Regions from separate parts of the Homo sapiens genome. Here all the other regions are linked to region 2. Evidence: fine-mapped expression QTL. A gene starts in region 2. Each other region holds a variant in brackets. All regions are shown on one strand. Distances are between the middles of the regions. Region 1 has its middle 31 kb from the start of APC. Region 2 holds the start of APC (APC regulator of Wnt signaling pathway). Region 3 overlaps LOC124901043 (a long non-coding RNA gene).

The links. PIP is the estimated chance that this variant, and not a neighbour inherited with it, causes the effect.
Region 1: its variant is fine-mapped to the expression of APC in whole blood (TOPMed, PIP above 0.99). The same link has a PIP of 0.9 or more in T cells, blood mononuclear cells, monocytes after LPS, monocytes after Pam3CSK4 and monocytes after R848.
Region 3: its variant is fine-mapped to the expression of APC in sigmoid colon (GTEx, PIP 0.98).

What each region holds. Positions count from the first base shown.
Region 1 is chr5:112,703,096-112,709,733 of GRCh38, forward strand. It overlaps a transcript of APC not described here. Among named protein-coding and RNA genes, the nearest start is that of APC, 31 kb to the right of the region's middle. RefSeq lists a silencer at 1,057-1,351 and enhancers at 1,057-1,351, 4,383-4,442. The variant C/G (reference allele first, on the strand shown) is at 4,490.
Region 2 is chr5:112,734,857-112,739,856 of GRCh38, forward strand. APC (APC regulator of Wnt signaling pathway) reads left to right here and starts at 3,029. Exons shown (of 16, transcript NM_000038.6): 1 at 3,029-3,069.
Region 3 is chr5:112,529,430-112,536,438 of GRCh38, forward strand. It overlaps LOC124901043 (a long non-coding RNA gene), which reads left to right. Exons shown (of 2, transcript XR_007058901.1): 2 at 1-983. Among named protein-coding and RNA genes, the nearest start is that of LINC02200, 96 kb to the right of the region's middle. The variant A/C (reference allele first, on the strand shown) is at 3,495.

The DNA.
Region 1 (6,638 bases), 31 kb before region 2:
TAGAAGTTCATATGCTCATTTTCCTGGCCTTCCTATCAATTACCGCTGTGCTGTCAAACATGGTAGCCACTGGCCACACGTGGCTACTGAGCACTTGACGTATGTCTAGTGGCACATGTTGAAATATTTTGGATATATTGGGTTAAATAAAATATATTATTAAAATTGGTTTCACCTGGTTTTTGTTTTGCTTTAGAGTCAGGGTCTCCCCCCCGTCACCCAGGCTGGAGTGCAGTGTCACAATCATAGCTCACCGCAGCCTGGAACTCCTGGGCTCAAGTGATCCTCCGGCTTCAGGTTCCTGAGTAACTAGGACTACAGGCATGCACCACCATGCCCAGCTAATATTTTTTTGTAGAGACAATGTCTTACTATATTACCCAGGCTGGTCTCAAATTCCTGGTCTAAAGCAATCTTCCCATCTCAGCCTCCCAAACTGCTTGGATTAGAGGCTGGTTTTTTGTTTTTGTTTTTGTTTTTAAACTGTCTTATGTGGCTACTAGAAAATTTAAAATTATGTATGTGGCTTGCATTATATTTCTATCAGACAGCATGTAGGTAGAGTGTTAATGTGTTACTAGGTTATATCCATGATTTGCCCCCATTCTAGGCTTGAGGTTGAAAGCTAATGTTGTGAATATGAAGTGACCCTCCATTCTGTTGAGAGTAGTGGCAGTGATAGTAACTGCATCTATCTTCCAGAAGCAGCAGAGGCATCATCCACTCTGGGTCAAGTGGTACTGGCAGTCTCAGTTTTGGTATTTGCATCCAGCAGTGGCTACAGTGATGGCTTCTTGGGACCAGTTCCGGGCATAATGTTGCGTGTTGTTCCTGAAGATCCTGTAGATGTCAAATATCCTTCTAATAAATTCCTTTTCTGCTAAGGCCCTTCATGAAGTCTCCCTCTCCACCCCAGTCCACAGGATCCTTCCCTTTTTCAGCATCAATAGTGAATAAGATCCAAACCACGCACTTGGCACTTTGCCCATACTATTTATCTTATCATAGGAAAGTGTCTAGTTTTCTCAGCCAGACTGTAAAATTCCCTGTGGCAGGAACCCTGTCTTTACATAATTGTTTCTTAGTATCTGTCAGACCTTGGTCACAGCATCACTGGAGGAATACTTGTTAGTTACCACTGCAGATCTTTGAAGTAGGCAGGGTGGCTGTCATTATCTCTGTTTGTACAGATGAGGAAACTGTTGTTCAGCGACTGGCTTGAGGTTGTGCAGCTGGCTTGCTCATACTGGAGCGGTAGCTCAAGCCTTCTCACTGCCTGCCAACATCTCTTTCCTCTATTTCAGGCCCTGCCAGATAAAATGGTGTATTAATTTCATAGAGCTGTTATAACAAAGTACCACAGATTGGGTGGCTTAAAACAACAGACATTTATTGACTCAGAGTTCTGAAAGTTATAAATCCAAAGTCAAGGTGTCCACAGGGCCATGTTCCCTCTGAAACCTGTAGGAAAGTCCATGCATGCCTCTTCCTAGCTTCTGATGGTTTGTTGGCAGTCTTTGGCATTCCTTGGCTTGTAGCTGCATAACTCCAATCTGCCTTTGTCCTCATCTGGCATCCTCACGTTCTGTCTATGTCTTCACACGGTCATCTTCTTAAAGGGACAGTAGTCATGGTGGGTTATCCTACCCTATTGCAGTATGACCTCATTTTATCTTAATTATATCTGCAATAATTTTATTTCAAAATAAGGGTACATTGTTTGGTACTGAAAGTCAGAACTTCAACATACCTTTTTTCGGAGTAGTACAATTCAGTCTCTAACAGATGGTAACCATAAGAGAAGTAAATACCATAGAAACTGAAGACTTTGTCTTGTTTCTAGGATTTATTCCAAGGATTACATTGTAGTGAGGTAGAAGGCGGGGAAGTGTTTTCAAGTATATATTCCTACCTACTACTTGATTTGCATATGGACTGATAGGGCTTGGTTGAAGAGCATATGTTATGGGTTCAGTGAATCTCTTCTCTCATATAAGGACTAAATGGCCCCCACAGATAAGATGCCAGCCCCATCCTTTCTGGCAGGTCTCCCCAGCCATCCTGAGGCAGCTATCCCATTTAGAGGGGAAATGATGGTGTGTAATTCTGATAAGTCAATGGAAGAAGAGGTTGTTGCAGTGAGCCTATAACTCTTTTCCAGAAGGGTCTTTGGGGGTCTAAGGTATCAGCTGGGTCCTAGATGGGCCAGCAAGTCCCATCTAGGCACATTGAGAAGCCTAACCAATAGATGCAGCTAGCCTTTAGACTATGTATCCATTTTGCTGGTATTTCTTCTTTTCCTTTAATGAAAATATATATGTTATTAATAAAAATAAATACAGAATTTAAAAAACATTAAAAGGAAAATGCTAAAATGAGTTCTGCTCTAGTTCAAAAGAAAAGAACGACAGTAGTTTCCAGGCAGGCCCTTTGAGGTCCTACACAGGGATAGTAATACGACTGGGACCCTTAAGTGGGGGTAACTGAATGAAATCTCTAATGAAAGCCTGCTAATGACACAGAATCAAATCTCTGAGTAAGCCTGTCTCCAAATCCAATTTCTCTAGATGGGAAGGGCATGGGCTTTATGGTCAGCACTATCCCTTAATGTGAGACCTTGGGCAAGGGACTTAATCTCTCTGAATTTGCCCATGTATAAAAGTGAGGATAATTATCTAGCAGGGCTGTGGTGAGGATTTCATATCTAACATAGTTCACAGCACATATAATAGGGATTGCATTAACTTGAAGCCTTCCTTCTCTCCATACTACAACATATGTAATATAAACCCTGCCCACTGTCCCACAATCACCCACCCTTCTCCATCCCATCTGCTCTCTCTCCAACCTTCCTACTTATATTCTAGCTGAGGAGACATATAAATAAGAAGTGACTTGCATTTCATTTTAAAAACCAAGTGAAACCAATATAGTACACCACCAACTACTTAGATGCTGACAAACTTCCACACTTATTAAATCAACAAACACTGAGTGACAGAGCACTCATGCCAGGTATGGTGCTATGCACTGTGTATTCATTGGTAAACAAAACGTATTCCCTGTCTTATGGAGTCGACTGTTTAGTGTGGAGGCAGTGAAGAAACAAAACATAGATCATTTAAAAACATATTGAGTACCATGGAAGAAATGATAAGGTGCAATGATTGAGAATAATAAGGAAGACAGGGGAAAATTTATTATTCTTAGGAAGGACGGTCTTTCTGAGGTGATATTTAAACTGAAACTTGAAAGATAAGAAGTTAGACATTTAAAGAACAAGAAGAAGTGTCTTCTAGGTAGTCAAGGGGGCATATACAAACCAGAAAGGCAGTCGGGAGCTAGAAGTGTTTGAAGAGGAGTAGTGGGGGCTAGGGGAGACAGCGTCAACAACATACAAGGGCCATTTTGAATAAAATCCAACTTCTTACCATGACCTGGAGGCCCTACCTGATTTGGCCTCTGCCTACCCCGACCACATCTCCTTCCCACTGTCCATGTCACCTATTCTTTCTGTCCCTCTTTCATGTCAGACTTGCTACCACCTCAGGATCTGTTCTGTTGTTCCCTCTGTCTGAAAGCTTTTGCCCCAGATCTTCCAGTGGCTCCTGGGCCCCCATGGTCAGTCAGGCTTCAGATTAAATGTCAACTCTGGAGAAAGATCACTAATCACCACCTCTCACTGTCCATCATCTTTCTGTGTGGTTTGCTCTCTTCCTATCCCTTATCACCATCAAACATTCTTTTGTTGACTGTCTTTTATTGTCTATTCTTTCACACTAGAATGTAAGTTCCGTGAGTTTATTGTATTTCCTATTGCTGTAAATCTAGAGCCTGAAACAGTATCTAGTATATATCGGAAACCCAAATGATATTGTTCAATTAATGTTGAATGAAATGAAACTGAAGAGGTAATCCAAGGTAAAGAACTTATCAAACTGTGTGAGACAAACAAGGATTTCCCGGAAGAGGTGTTTTTAAATTAAAACTACAGGGTGGTAGTGAGAGGTGGTAGGGAAGCAGAGGTCGCAGCTACAAAATAATAACTTGCTCATCTCCGTTTCTCCGCTATCTTATGAGCCCTTGTGGGGCTGGGACAGAATTTTATTCATCTTTCTATCATCAGCGTCTAGTACGGGGAGTAGCAAATAGTGAGCACTCGATAGATGTTTGCGGAATAATGGACTAGTGTGTGCAGAAGGATCTATTAACTGGGCTGCAGCACAATTCAGAGAAGGCCAGTAAGTGCTGCAACTGAGACTCGGCTGCCTAGGCAGCAATGGCTCACGGGACAGAACAGCGAAGCAGTGCCCGGCAAGCGGAGCGCAGCACCCATTGCGCCTGCGCATAACAGGCTCTAGTCTCCGGGCTGTGGGAAGCCAGCAACACCTCTCACGCATGCGCATTGTAGTCTTCCCACCTCCCACAAGATGGCGGAGGGCAAGTAGCAAGGGGGCGGGGTGTGGCCGCCGGAAGCCTAGCCGCTGCT[C/G]GGGGGGGACCTGCGGGCTCAGGCCCGGGAGCTGCGGACCGAGGTTGGCTCGATGCTGTTCCCAGGTACTGTTGTTGGCTGTTGGTGAGGAAGGTGAAGCACTCAGTTGCCTTCTCGGGCCTCGGCGCCCCCTATGTACGCCTCCCTGGGCTCGGGTCCGGTCGCCCCTTTGCCCGCTTCTGTACCACCCTCAGTTCTCGGGTCCTGGAGCACCGGCGGCAGCAGGAGCTGCGTCCGGCAGGAGACGAAGAGCCCGGGCGGCGCTCGTACTTCTGGCCACTGGGCGAGCGTCTGGCAGGTGAGTGAGGCTGCAGGCATTGACGTCTCCTCCCGGCAAAGCTTCCTCGGCTTTGCCCCGCCGCTGCTCGGGACCCTACGGTGCTCGGCCCGACTCTGTGGCTCTCTTCTCTCCATGTCTCACCCTCTCCCCTCCCCGCACTCCCCATTCAGGCCTCCAGTTGGCCCCTGGCTTTGCAGGTCCTCCATTCTCACGCAGTGGATGGGGGTCGCGACGCCCGCCGTCCTCCACCTTTCCTGGCTGCTGCTGGAGCTTCGCCCCTGCAAGTGGTGCCCCATTCGCGTTAGGTGGGTGGGTCGTCCGCCCTTCCCATTTTAGTCGCTTCCCCATCTTCCTCGTTTGGACCCTCTTGCTTCCTCTAAAAGTTTTAAACTCTCTGCCTGGGAAAATACCTGATAGCCCGGCATGTGGAGTTACAAAGAAAGGGCTGTTATCCAAAGGCCGGTGAATTTTGTTCACTTTGATGGGAGAATCAAGTCCCCAGGAGCCTTGGATGGTTAGGTCAGAGTCTGACTCCTTGACCCACCAAGTAGAGGAATGGTGCCTCTGTTGGCAAATGATTGTTCATCTAAATCATTCATTTTTTTCGGCTGTAGGAAATCTTTGGTCTCTGAACTGTTGAGGTGGGGGCGTGAGCTTTCTAGATCTAGTGAAAGAATTGGAAACTGTTATATTCGTTTTAAAAAAGAAGACCTTATGCAGTACATGTAAGACATCACTTAATGGTACAAGCAAGGATAAGTGATTTATTCTTTTATTCAGTGTTAGCTTAAATTGCCTACTGACGTCTTAGAATTCCATGTTGTACAAGCCCTTTGTTTCTATTTAGAAAGGACTAAAATGGAGAAAAGCTTTTTAAGTTCAAAACTTCTTAAATTGCTTGTATTCTCGATTGTTGTTACTGTTCAACCCTCCTTAGGAGTACTTGATATTTTCTATATGATTTAGTCTTGTGCCAGTCTCAGTACTCCCTCCTTTATTAGTGGAGCAAGGGTAGTCAGAATTACTGGTGTAAAAAACTGTCCTAAATAACGTAGTACCTTGCCAGAGTCTAAGTGCAAAATGTGGGATCAAAGCGGTAGTGGAGGAAGTTGCCATGGCTAATTTTTCCATCTTTCCCTGGATGGAAGGGTTGGATAACGTGTCAAGAGCCCCAAAATTGTAGAAGTGAGATTAAAAATATAAATGATAGCTTGCCCTTTGAAATTGCAAATGGGTGGACCTTTTTTATTAACATTAAATTGAGCAATATCGTTTTCTTGAAGTTATGCTAGATGTTCTCCAAAGTTGTTAAGCACAAACTATGCCTGCTGTATTAGAATTGTATGTTAAAAATTTTTAACGTGTGGGTTATAAATAGCCTGGCAGATTTGTTTACTTTTCATTCTGTCTCATAACACATAATCTATTTTTCCCTTTACTGTGGACTTTTGACCTTTTAATGCATTTTTAAAATTTAGAGATAGAATTGTTCAGCTTAAAAGAAGGAGGAATATTTTTATGTTTGCTTCTTGTATGGGCTAGTTCATTCGTTGCTAGCCTTCACTTTTCTGGAACCAGAGCCTGTGTGTTTTTAGAGCTGGTTGTCTCTGAATTCTCTGCATACAGTTTGAAGGGGCAGTAGCAAAGCAGGGGTTGCTGAGCCCCAATCAGTGGCTCACTGCTTCTGGCAAAATGATTTGTAGCTCTGTATCAAAAAACATCTGACCACAAACTCTTTAAAACCTCTCACTTTGGCAGGGTGTGGTGGCTCATGCCTGTAATTCCAGCACTTTGGGAGAGGCCAAAGCGCATGGATCGCATGAGTCCAGGAGTTCGAGACCAGCCTAGGCAACATGGCAAAGCCTCATC
Region 2 (5,000 bases):
CTCGGCTCACTGCAGCCCCCACCTCCCAGGTCCAAGAGATTCTCATGCCTCAGCCTCCCAAGTAGCTGGGGAATGTAATATTTAAGACATTAAGAATCCTATTAATCCTATTTAGTCATTTTTTTTTGTAGCTGCAGAAGGTTCAGAAGGGTTTTTTAAGTTGAATTATATGTTCATATTTACAACATTTACATATGAAACCATTTACTAAAAGCAATGAAGCTGGTTATAACAAACACTGATACTGAAAATAAGAGATATGTTTGTCAGTGCGGTCTTTAAACAGTGTTACACAATTTATTTCTGTTTCATTTTGATCAGAAAAAATATATATATCTTTTGAGACATGGTCTCTGTTGCACAGGCTGGAGTACAATGGCGAGATCTCGGCTCACTGCAACCTCTGCCTCCTGGGTTCAAGTGATCCTCCCACCTCAGCCTCTAGAGTAGCTAGGACCACAGGCGCGTGTCACCACAGCTGGCTAATTTTTTTGTATTCTTGGTAGAAATGAGGTTTCGCCATGTTGCCCATGCTGGTCTCCAACTCCTGAGCTCAAGTGAACTGGCCACCTCGGCCTCCCAAATTCCTGGGATTATAGGCATGAGCCACTGCACCCTGCCCAGAAAATATTTTTAATGCATACATATATATATATATATATGTATATGTAGTGTAAATAACATCTTCAATCAAATAGAGATGGCAGGAGCTTTATTCTGAGCTATGTGCAAACTTGATAAGACAAGGTAATGCTTCAGTAATTTTCCATGCTGAAATTTGGCCCAGTATACTTTGATTATATATCTATATTTAATTATAGTTTTAAAATAGCTAAGCAGTTTTAAAAATTCAAATTAAACTTTTGTGGAATCTCTAAAAATAAGAAAAATATTACTGAGTAATTGGCAACATAAAATACAAAATGTTTAACTTGGCTTTCTTTTAGATTTGAAGCATAGTGACTAATGAACATATAATGGTCGTAGCTTTCTTTACAACTATGTCATTTAAGTCACTGATGAATATCTATGATACATGCAGTAAAAATTTAGACAAACATTTTGGCTACAAACTGGTTTACTAAATAATAGCTTGTATCATAGTCTGAGTCAAGAGTAATAGGCTTACAATTGTGTCTTAGGGTACTAAGAAGTTCTTTTGAGGACCTTTTAAAAGGTATTCTTTGTTTTGAAAGACTGTTTTCCTTCTGGAAGTTCTAGGCCTTATGAGAAATTACCTATTCTGAATTTGTCACAAAAAATGACTTGTAAATAAGTCCTGTGCAGTGAATCATGTGCTTTCAGTAAGAGGATTTTGAAAGCCTTTTGTAAAATGAAGTCATTCTCAAAAGAGAGTTATTTAGAATATAATCAAATTGATTTACATGCTTTTATTTATTTCAAATATGAAGGGAAATTGTTTCTAAATATATTTAAACTTTTAATAGAACAGTAGTATGCCATCAGTGTGGAAATAACTCACTTGTTAAATAAATATTTGGGGTGTATTTGCTGTATATCAGGCATTGTAACACAGGGACTAATGAAAGAGAAAAAAAACAAAGCACGAAAGGACAGCAGAAATAGCTCCATAATCTCACTTTCCAGGAATAACCTCTATGGACATTTTGTTGTGTGTCTATTGCTTTTCTAATATATACATTTTTTAATCAAATGGAATTGCCTCAAATATGCTATTTAATAGCTTGCTTCTTTTCATACTATTTGAAAATTAAGAAACGATTATAATATGCTTCATTTAAAAACTTTAAGTTTAGGCCGGGCACAGTGGCTCACGCATGTAATCCCAGTACTTGGAGGGACCGAGGTGGGCGGATCACAAGGTCAGGAGATTGAGACCATCCTGGCCAGCATGGTGAAACCCCGTCTCTACTAAAAATACAAAACTTAGCTGGGCATGATGGCACGTGCCTGTAGTCCCAGCTACTTGGGAGGCTGAGGCAGGAGAATCGCTTGAACCCGGGAGGTGGAGGTTGCAGTGAGCGGAGATTGCACCACTGCACTCGCCTGGTGACAGAGCAAGACTCTATCTCAAAAAACAAACAAAGAAAACTTGAAGTATAGTATCCTTTTAAATTTTAAATAGATAATAGAAACTGGTTTCCCCCCATTTAAACCAGAATTTAAGTTTAACTTTATATATTCTTGACAGTTTGGATTTTGTCCTTCAACCTCATAAAATTGGGAATTTAAGCATCACCTGGTTCGATTTAAATGCAATGTAGAATTTGCATTAAAATACTACATTAAAGCCTCAGATTTGTAGTAGCTAACAGCACTTCTATGTATGTGTCAGGGACTGCTCTAAATACTTCATATATATTAACTCCTCTATTCTGTACTTCTGTTCCCGTTTTATACAGCAGGAAATTGAAACACTGAGAGGTTAAGTAACTAAAGTTACAGAGCTAGAGTGACAGGAGTAAAGCTTCAACTCAGGCAACCCAGACTTCCAGAGTTCTGATCTCCACTACTAAGCTGCTAGCATAGCTTTTCTGGTAACTATTTTTAATTCAAATATAATTCGAGTGATCTATCTAACAAGTCATCACTCTGACAACTCAGTGACTTGTAATGTAAAATTATTCATTGTAATTCATTTAATATTATTGTTTCTCTGTGCTGCAAAAATCATAGCAATCGAGATGTAATTTATTACTCTCCCTCCCACCTCCGGCATCTTGTGCTAATCCTTCTGCCCTGCGGACCTCCCCCGACTCTTTACTATGCGTGTCAACTGCCATCAACTTCCTTGCTTGCTGGGGACTGGGGCCGCGAGGGCATACCCCCGAGGGGTACGGGGCTAGGGCTAGGCAGGCTGTGCGGTTGGGCGGGGCCCTGTGCCCCACTGCGGAGTGCGGGTCGGGAAGCGGAGAGAGAAGCAGCTGTGTAATCCGCTGGATGCGGACCAGGGCGCTCCCCATTCCCGTCGGGAGCCCGCCGATTGGCTGGGTGTGGGCGCACGTGACCGACATGTGGCTGTATTGGTGCAGCCCGCCAGGGTGTCACTGGAGACAGAATGGAGGTGCTGCCGGACTCGGAAATGGGGTAGGTGCTGGAGCCACCATGGCCAGGCTTGCTGCGGGGGGAGGGGGGAAGGTGGTTTTCCCTCGCACTGTCTTAAACCGATGGCCTTTCCTTGGCACAGGGTCCACTGCAGCATGCCAAACGAGGAGGCAGGGGCGTCGTCCCCCCGCCCCCCACTGCAGCACTGGAGATGGATTTCCTGTACTTCGGATCCAGGGTTTTTGACAGAAGAGGAAGAAGGGGGAGGGGTAGAAGTGTTAAGGGGAGTCTGCTGAGAAAAGCTGTTTTTGAAGCCAGAAGGGGTTTTTGTTTTTATAATGCCATTTGACAGAGTGGAATAACAGTATCTAAGGAAACGGGTAGAGGACAACAAAGAATGGAGCATATTCATGGCGAGGAGCAAAAGCTCTACCCCATTGAAAGGCTTCTTTTCCTCCCTGGCGACAAGGACACATGCATTGGTGGCCAAAAGAGAGAGGAGACAAAACCGCTGCAGATGGCTGATGTGAATCTAGTGGAAAGAGCTACTGGGGATGAGAGAAAGAGGAGGAGGCAGGTACTGCAGAGCGTGAGTGGTGGTGTTGGTTGGTGAAATACTGGTCACCAGTAGTGTGCCTGCTTTTGTAAAACATCTAAGTAAACTCCCTGTGAACAGGGTGGCAAACAGATACCAGTGTCTTTGTTAGTTACAAAATGCAGTGGTAGTGGCTTTTTGCGGACGACTGCAGCAGTGCTTTTTCTCCCTCTGTTAGGCCGAAAAGACAACTGCAGAGGAATAAGAAACCTTGCAGCAAATGCTGGGGTAGAAGCCCATTTACAAGAAGCCATAGTTTATAAATGCAGCCTGAACAGCAGAAAAAAAATTACTGTTTTTTAAAGTAGGAATAATGTCAGGCTATGAATGTTTTGTCATTGGAATGTATTGGACACTTTGATTCTACATCACGAAAGTGATGCTCAAATTCTTTGATTTAACATAAATCCTATACGAAATCTTAATAAATTATGTATGAAACAGTGGATCTTTTCTTTTGTTAGTGAAGCTTTTATGCCATTAATTAGGTCATTCAAGAGCAAACCACTTTACAACGTAAATTACTTTGTCAAAAATTATGGTGAACAAATTTTTGTAGGCCTAATATTTAAGACCTATAGTTAAGTAATTTTATATTTCTCTTTGGTTGCTTTTAGATAACACTGAATAAATATTTAAGATATTAATTCAGTGTGCAAATATTTTAAATTAAAGCAACATGGCTTTTCTTCTAGATGTATTTCTGTTTAGTGAGTACTCATGAGATATACTCTTGATATAAAGTGTTTTTCATTGAGCTTTTTTTTCCTTTACCTAAATGTAAAAGCCTATCTTTATGCATACTTATAGTAGCCAGCCTGCCACACCTCCCCACTCCCTGAACAAGGATGGCAGTGGCTTTGTAAAGCCCTCCAGGGTCAGTGACAGTGTCTCTTAAATAATGTTTATGTAATAGAAAGTCTTAAGATGACCTATTATATTGTTTCAGTAATATTTTCAAGATAATGCGGAATTGGGCTGGCTTAGATAAATAAGACTACATAAGTTTTTCACTGATAAATTTAAATAGTTCTTTAAAAAATTATTTCTGCTTTAAGAATTACTTGATCATGGATATCAGGGTTAATAGTACTTAGGAGCCGGGCGTGGTGGCCCATGCCTGTAATACAAGCTAAACAGGAGGCTGAGGGAAGCTGAGGCAGGAGGATCACTTGAGCCTTGGCGTTCAAGACCAGCCTGGGCAACCAAGCAAGACCCTATCTCAAAAAAAAGTACTTAGAGTCTCTTTTTTAAAATCTGATGGAAACTATGGCTAGAACTAAAGATGTCACATTAAAATTCCAAATGACATTTAACAGCTAATATTACTCAGTTCTTTGAATTCCATTAGCATAGTGTTTGAGAGTCTATAAAACTA
Region 3 (7,009 bases), 200 kb before region 2:
GACTTGGTACAGAAGACAGCAAAGGCATTAGGAATCACTTGGAAGCTATGTGCCACCTACTGACCTCAGAGTTCTGGAAAAGATGGAGTGAATGAATCGGACTATCAAAAATAGTTTAGGGAAAGTATGTCAGGAAATAGGATTAAAGCAGATACAGTCTCTTCCTATGATATTGTTTAAAATTAGATGCACTCCTTCTAAGAAAACAGGACACTCCCCTTAGGAAATACCGTATCATAGGCCTCCTCCCATACTACTGGGGCTTTCAGGCACTCCCCAAGTGTCAGGTGAAATTGAATTACAGCGACAGCTACAGGCTTTAGGAAAAATTACACAAACAATCTCAACTTGGGTAAATGAGAGGTATCCCATCAGCTTACTCTCCCCAGTTCACCCGTTCTCTCCAGGTGATCGCATGTGGATCAAGGACTGGAACATAGCCCCTTTGTGGCCATGGTGGAAAGGACCTCAGACCATCATCCTGACCACCCCCAAGGCTGTAAAGGTAGAAGGAATCCCATCCTGGGTCCACCACAGCCATGTGAATCCTGCAGCCGCTGAAACCTGGGAGGCAAAACAGAGCCTGGACAACCCCTGCAAAGTGACTCTGAGGAGGATGACAAGCCCTGCTCCAGTCACACCTGGAAGCTGACTGGTCTACGCACAGCCAAAACATGAGGAGGATCATTGTGGGACTCACTTTCCTTATAATTTGGACTTGTATAGTAAAAACTTCCACTGATTTTCCTCACATGTAGGACTGCTCTCAGTGTATACATCAGGTTACCGAGGTAGCACAACAAGTTACAACAATCTTTCTGTTCTATAGTTACTATGAATGCCCAGGAAATTTAAAAGGAATATGTTTATATAACGACACTCAGTATAAGGTATGTAGCCCAGGAAATGACTGGCCAGATGTGTGTTATGACCCCTTTGAGCCTCCCATGTCCACAGTTTTTGAAATAAAATTAAGGACTGAAGACTGGTGGGGACTCATAAATGATACAAGTAAAGTATTAGCCAGAACAGAAGAAAAAGGGGTGCCCAGATGCACAATCTTGAAATTTGATACCTGTGGTGTCATTAATAGCAATAAGTTAGGAAGGGGATATAGCTCTTTTAGTTGGGAAAAAGGCTATGTGACCAAAAATAAGTACATTTGTCATGAATTAGGACTGTGTGGAAATGAATGTGGATACTGGTCTTGTGTCATTTGGGCCACTTGGATAAAAAATGAAAAGGATCCAGTCCACCTTCAGAAAGGAAAAAATGGCCCTTCCTGTACTAAGGGACAAGGTAACACCTTAGAGCTAGTAATAACCAATCCCCTTGATCCACGCTGGAGAAAAGGGGAGCATGTGACCTTAGGAATCAATGGGGCCAGACTGGATCCTCGAGTAAATTTCTTAGTTTGAGGAGAAGTTTACAAACACTCTCCTGAGCCAGTGTTTCAAACTTTCTATGATGAACTAAATGTGCCAGTACCAGAAATTCCAGGAAAAACAAGAAATTTGTTTTTGCAATTAGCCAAGCATGTAGCCCAGTCTCTCAATGTCACTTCATGTTATGTCTGTGGAGGAACTGCAGTGGGAGATCAATGGCCATGGGAAGCCTGAAAATTAGTACATACAGACCCAGCTCCTGATGAATTCCTGGCTCAAAAGAATCACTCTAATAATTTCTGAGTCCTAAAAGCCTCAATTATTGGACAATATTGCATAGCTAGAGAAGGAAAAGAATTCACTTACCCCGTAGAATGACTTAGTTGTCTGGAACAGAAACTGTATAATGGCACCACAAAGACAGTCACTTGGTGGAGTTCAAATCACACAGAGAGGAATCCACTTAGTAAATTCCCAAAGTTGCAAACCGTGTGGACCCACCCGGAGTCCCACCGGGACTGGACAGCCCCCACTGGATTATACTGGATATGTGGGCATAGAGCTTATGCCAAATTATCCGAACAGTGGGCGGGTAGTTGTGTTATTGTCACTATTAAACCATCTTTCTTTCTACTGCCCATAAAGACAGGTGAACTCCTGGGCTTCCCTGTCTATGCTTCCAGTGAAAAGAGAAGCAAAGCTATAGGAAATTGGAAAGATGATGAATGGTCCCCTGAGGGAATCATACAATATTATGGGCCTGCTACTTGGGCACAAGACAGCTCATGGGGACGCCGGACCCCCATTTACATGATGAACCAAATCATACGGTTACAAGCTGTCTTAGAAATAACCACTGATACAACCAGCAGAGCCTTGACTATTCTGGCCTGGCAAGAAACTCAGATGAGAAATGCTATCTATCAAAGTAGATTGGCTCTCGACTACTTGCTAGCAGTTGAAGGAGGGGTCTGTGGGAAATTTAACCTTACTAATTGCTGTCTACACATAGATGATCAAGGGCGAGTGGTTGAAGACATAGTTAGAGATATGACAAAACTGGCACACGTGTCCATGCAAGTGTGGCATGGATTTGATCCTGAAGCCATGTTTGGAAAATGGCTCCCAGTGCTAGGAGGATTTAAAACTCTTATAATAGGAGTTATAATAGTAATAAAAACCTGCTTACTGCTCCCTTGTTTGCTACCTGTACTTCTTCAAATGATAAAAAAGCTTCATCGCTACCTTAGCTCTCCAAAATACTCCAGCACAAGTGTACTATATGAATCACCATCGATCTGTCTTGCAAGAAGACATGGGTAGTGAGGATGAAAGTGAGAACTCCCACTATTGAGTGAGATTCTCAAATGGGGGGAATAAGGGAGGAGACCACCCCTTATATTGTCTTATGCCCAATTTCTGCCTCCAAAGAAAGAAGAAGTAAAAACTAAAAGGCAGAAATGAAATCTACAAACAGACAACCCGGTGCCACACCCTGGGCCTGGTAGTTAAAGATCGACCCCTGACCTAATCAGTTATTTGCATAAAAAAGGCACTGTGAAGATCCGTGTCCTGTTCAGTTTCTTTCTAATTACCGATGTATGCAGCCCCCAGTCATGTACCCCTGCTTGCTCAATTGATCACGACCCTCTCAAGCGGACACCCTTAGAGTTGTGAGCCCTTAAAAGGGACAGGAATTGCTCACTTGGGGAGCTCGGTTGTTGGAGACGTGAGTCTTGCTAAAGCTCTTGCCTAAATAAAGCCCTTCCTTCTTTAACTCAGTGTCTGAGGGGTTTTGACTGCAGCTTGTCCTGCTACAGTGTGGGTGTGTGTTTGGGAGAGGAAGGTCTCCCTTTCTCACTTCCACAGTTGGGGCACTCACAGTTTTGGGAGGGTCTCCTGGATCCTCTAGGAGCAGTCCACTTCCTTCGGAGGGTCTGTGGGTCTTCTTGGGATTGCTGGTTTGTTCTTGCAGTCTATCTGGAGCTAAAATTCACAATGTGAGCTGCCCTCCACTGCTTTGTCCAGAGCTGCAATCTAGTCCTGCCCCCATCCTGTCGGCCATGATCTCACACTACTTAAGATTTTAAATTAGAACTTCTGACATCA[A/C]AACACAAAAGAGACAACATTTCAAACTTGATCCACTGAAAACAGGGTAAGTTTAATTCTAAATCCAAATCCAACATTCTAAAACAAGATGTTATCCAAAAATGAAAATTAGTTGCATGACCATTTTTAAAATAACTTTACATATTGAAATAGCTTAAGATTCAGAAGAAGTGACAAAAATAGTACAGAGGTTTTCACACACCCTTCACCCACATTCACCCAACATTAATATCTTGCATAACCATGATGCATGTCAAAACCAGAGTTGCACAGCTCTTAAATCCGTCATCCACGTTGAGCATATAAAAGCATCTGGCTACTGGAAATGAAAATAAGGGATTTTTGAAGAGTGATATGTCTTCTGAAAGCTCTGCATGTGCTGTGGGTTCCTCTACCACCTCATTCGCAAAAGAATAGGATGTGAATTGCTTGTTTTTTCATCTCAACTTAGAAGAAGAAGCATCAAAGGGAATTCTCAGAGAGCTTAATGTGTATTTCCTGAAGTCTGGGGGTGGGGACACACTGCACTTGAGTGTGACTCCCCTCTGAGCACTCAAGGGTGAGAGACAGGCTGGACAGCAGCTGACTGGTAAGCCAAGGGAAAGATGGCTGGGTTGACATAGGCCTGCATACACAGAATTTGTCAGAGCAAGAGATGCATGGATTTTACATAACAGAAATGTGAACCACACACAAGAAAGCTGGCATGAGGTCATCTTATATCCTGTCCAATAGGGCTACCTAGGAGGGCAAAGTCCTCAGTAGAGAGAAGCTGATGGCATAGTCTGACTCATAGGGATTGGAGAGGGAATAAGCAACACACCGAATGAGAGGGCACCATTCACATGAACAGAGTTGCAGAGAGATCCTTGAAGATGGTGTGGAAGTGGAGAGAGGACAAGGAGTGAAATCTCCAAAGAATACATGATGGCATCTATGAAATCATTACCTTTAAACTCACGCCAGTGCCAGAGAATATTTGAAAATTGTTGTGGGTTTTTTTTAAAAAAAAAAAAAAAAAACAATCTCAAACTTACAGAAGCATGCATGTACAATACTAAAAACTTTTTCCAGAATTATTTGAAAGCAAGTTGCCAATATCATGCCTCACTGTGTGGAGTGACATCTTCCTCACCCTGTCCATGCTCTGATACCCTCCACAAGACCACCCTCCTCCTTGGGTTCCAACTCTGCACCAGGCTGCCACCCCATGTGTGACAAGGCATGAACTTTCTTCACCTTGCACAGGCTCTGGCTTCCTTAGGCAGCCCATACTCCCATGCAAATACCCACCTCAACTCATTTGACTCCAGTGTCTGGCCCTGGACAGCCTTCTTGGTGCAGATGCCCTCCTCAGCCTGCTTGGGGTCTGACATGCCACACCAATGCACCCCTCTGAGGCAAGGCCCTCCTCACCCAACTTGGGCTCTGACACCCCATTCTGGGCACCATAGCCAACTGTAATAGTTAATATTGAATGGACTGAAGGAGGCAAAGTGTTGTTTCTGGGTGTGTCTGTGAGGGTGCTGCCAAAGGAGATTAACATTTGAGTCAGTGGACTGGGAGAGGCAGACCCACCCTCAATCTGGGTGGGCATCAGCTAATCAGCTCAGGACCGAATTGTTCAGAATGGGAAAAGACAAGAACTTGGGAAAAGAGCTGCAAAGCCACCTTGTAGTAGCAGCAGTCAAGTAAAACCTCTCATGGTTATTTTAATTCTTCTCTTTCTTTGCTTTCAGATCTGGAAGGTTAAGAAAGCACAATTATCAGGCTGGGGGAGGAAGGGCATAGGAAGGGAAAAGGAACCAACTACACCCCTCCTCCAGTTGAAGGCTTCCTGGTAGGGGAGGGAAGATTTATATTTGAATCAGGTTCAGAGTTTTGCCTTATATGGGATGAGAAATTTTGACTTCCGAATTGAGACTGTGCTTGGTGACTAAGAGTGGCAATCGTTTTATTAGTTAAGTGTGTTAAGGAAAGCCATAGGACTGCTGATGTTTTTTATCCAAGAGCCAAGGGAAAACTTTCCCCATTGAATAAATATAAAAGGAAAGTGAGGGACAAATTATACCACCTTATCATTCCGCTCCATGAGGCCTGCTTGCTCCGTGCCTTCATTACATACATTTGCAGTGGCTGCCAATCTAGAACAAACAGGGGTTTTCTATAATTTCCAAGAGGCCCCAACTGTCTGAAAATCTACAGAGGAAACAAAAGTCCTTATGGTAACCCTTTTTTGGTTGTTCATTTCTTTAAAGATTGACAGGGTTTTGTTTGTTTTGTTTTTTGTTTTGTTTTGTTTTGTTTATCATTCTGTAATTAGGGAGAGTGTTCCAACAACAAAAATATATTATTTCTAGGTAACTGAGGTATAACTAAGAAGACCTCAAGGGCAAAATTCTGCTTTCTCTTTAAATCTCTCGCAAGCACATCTCTAATTTTATTTCTGCCTTTGTTGCTGTCTCATCTTAACTTCATCTTAGTAAAATTGTCATCAAAATCTTCTTGGGAGAGAAGAAGACTCACAGTCCGTGCCCATGGTGGTTTTTATCTGCCTGAACACAAGCCAAACATCTTGGGGCCAGTATCCTCAGAGGTCTTCCTTTATCACTGAGCTCTCCCTTGTACTCACCTCAGCCTCACTGCTGGGTGGGTCTATCTCCTGCCATCTATGCACCACCCAGGTCCTCCACTCTGCTGAAACTTCTTTTGAGCTATTAGGTTTGGATCATTCCTGGGACTTTTGTAATCTCTCACATTTTAGACGTGGTCCACTGAAAATAGAGTAAGTTTAATTCCAAATCCAACACCTTCATCTCTTTTGAGGGAGGCAAAAATTGATCACCTCTTTCCTACGGTAATGTTGTTGATCTTGTTTTTAGTTTATCTCTGTAATTCCCACTTTGTCTAGCACAGTGCTTTGAACATAATCAGAACTCAGTAAATATCTACTGAATGGATGAATTCATTCCATGAAGAAAGAACATGAAAGGATGATTAATGGAGGCAATTAGCCAGATAATTAAAAAGTATTTTTCCTCTACTATTCAGACATTTCAACAAGAGGATTTTTTGTTAACTACACAGATAATTACTTTAATATACCACATCACTCTTTATACATGTGTGGGACCCAATATTTGTATACACGTATGGCCTGACAAAAAATAGGTAACAGTTGTTGGATAAAGAATTATATTTGCAGAAATAGAATGGAAAAGATACTGTTAACAGTATTATTTCTGGGAAAAGAGGAAAGGGAATTGTTGGATCAACAAGGTCACTGGTCTTGTAGTTTTTACTGTATACACTTCTATATTTATACAGTGTTTTAATTTTTGTGAGCACGTATTTTCAATATTAATTTCTTAAAATTGTATTAACTAAGCAGAAAACTAAGCAGAGATATTGCGGACCTGAACTTTTGAGCTTTTAGCTTCATGGGTTCGTATTACGGGATACAATGCCCATGGGGTAGCAAATGCCTCCAGGGAACAGGCAAGTAAAATACATAA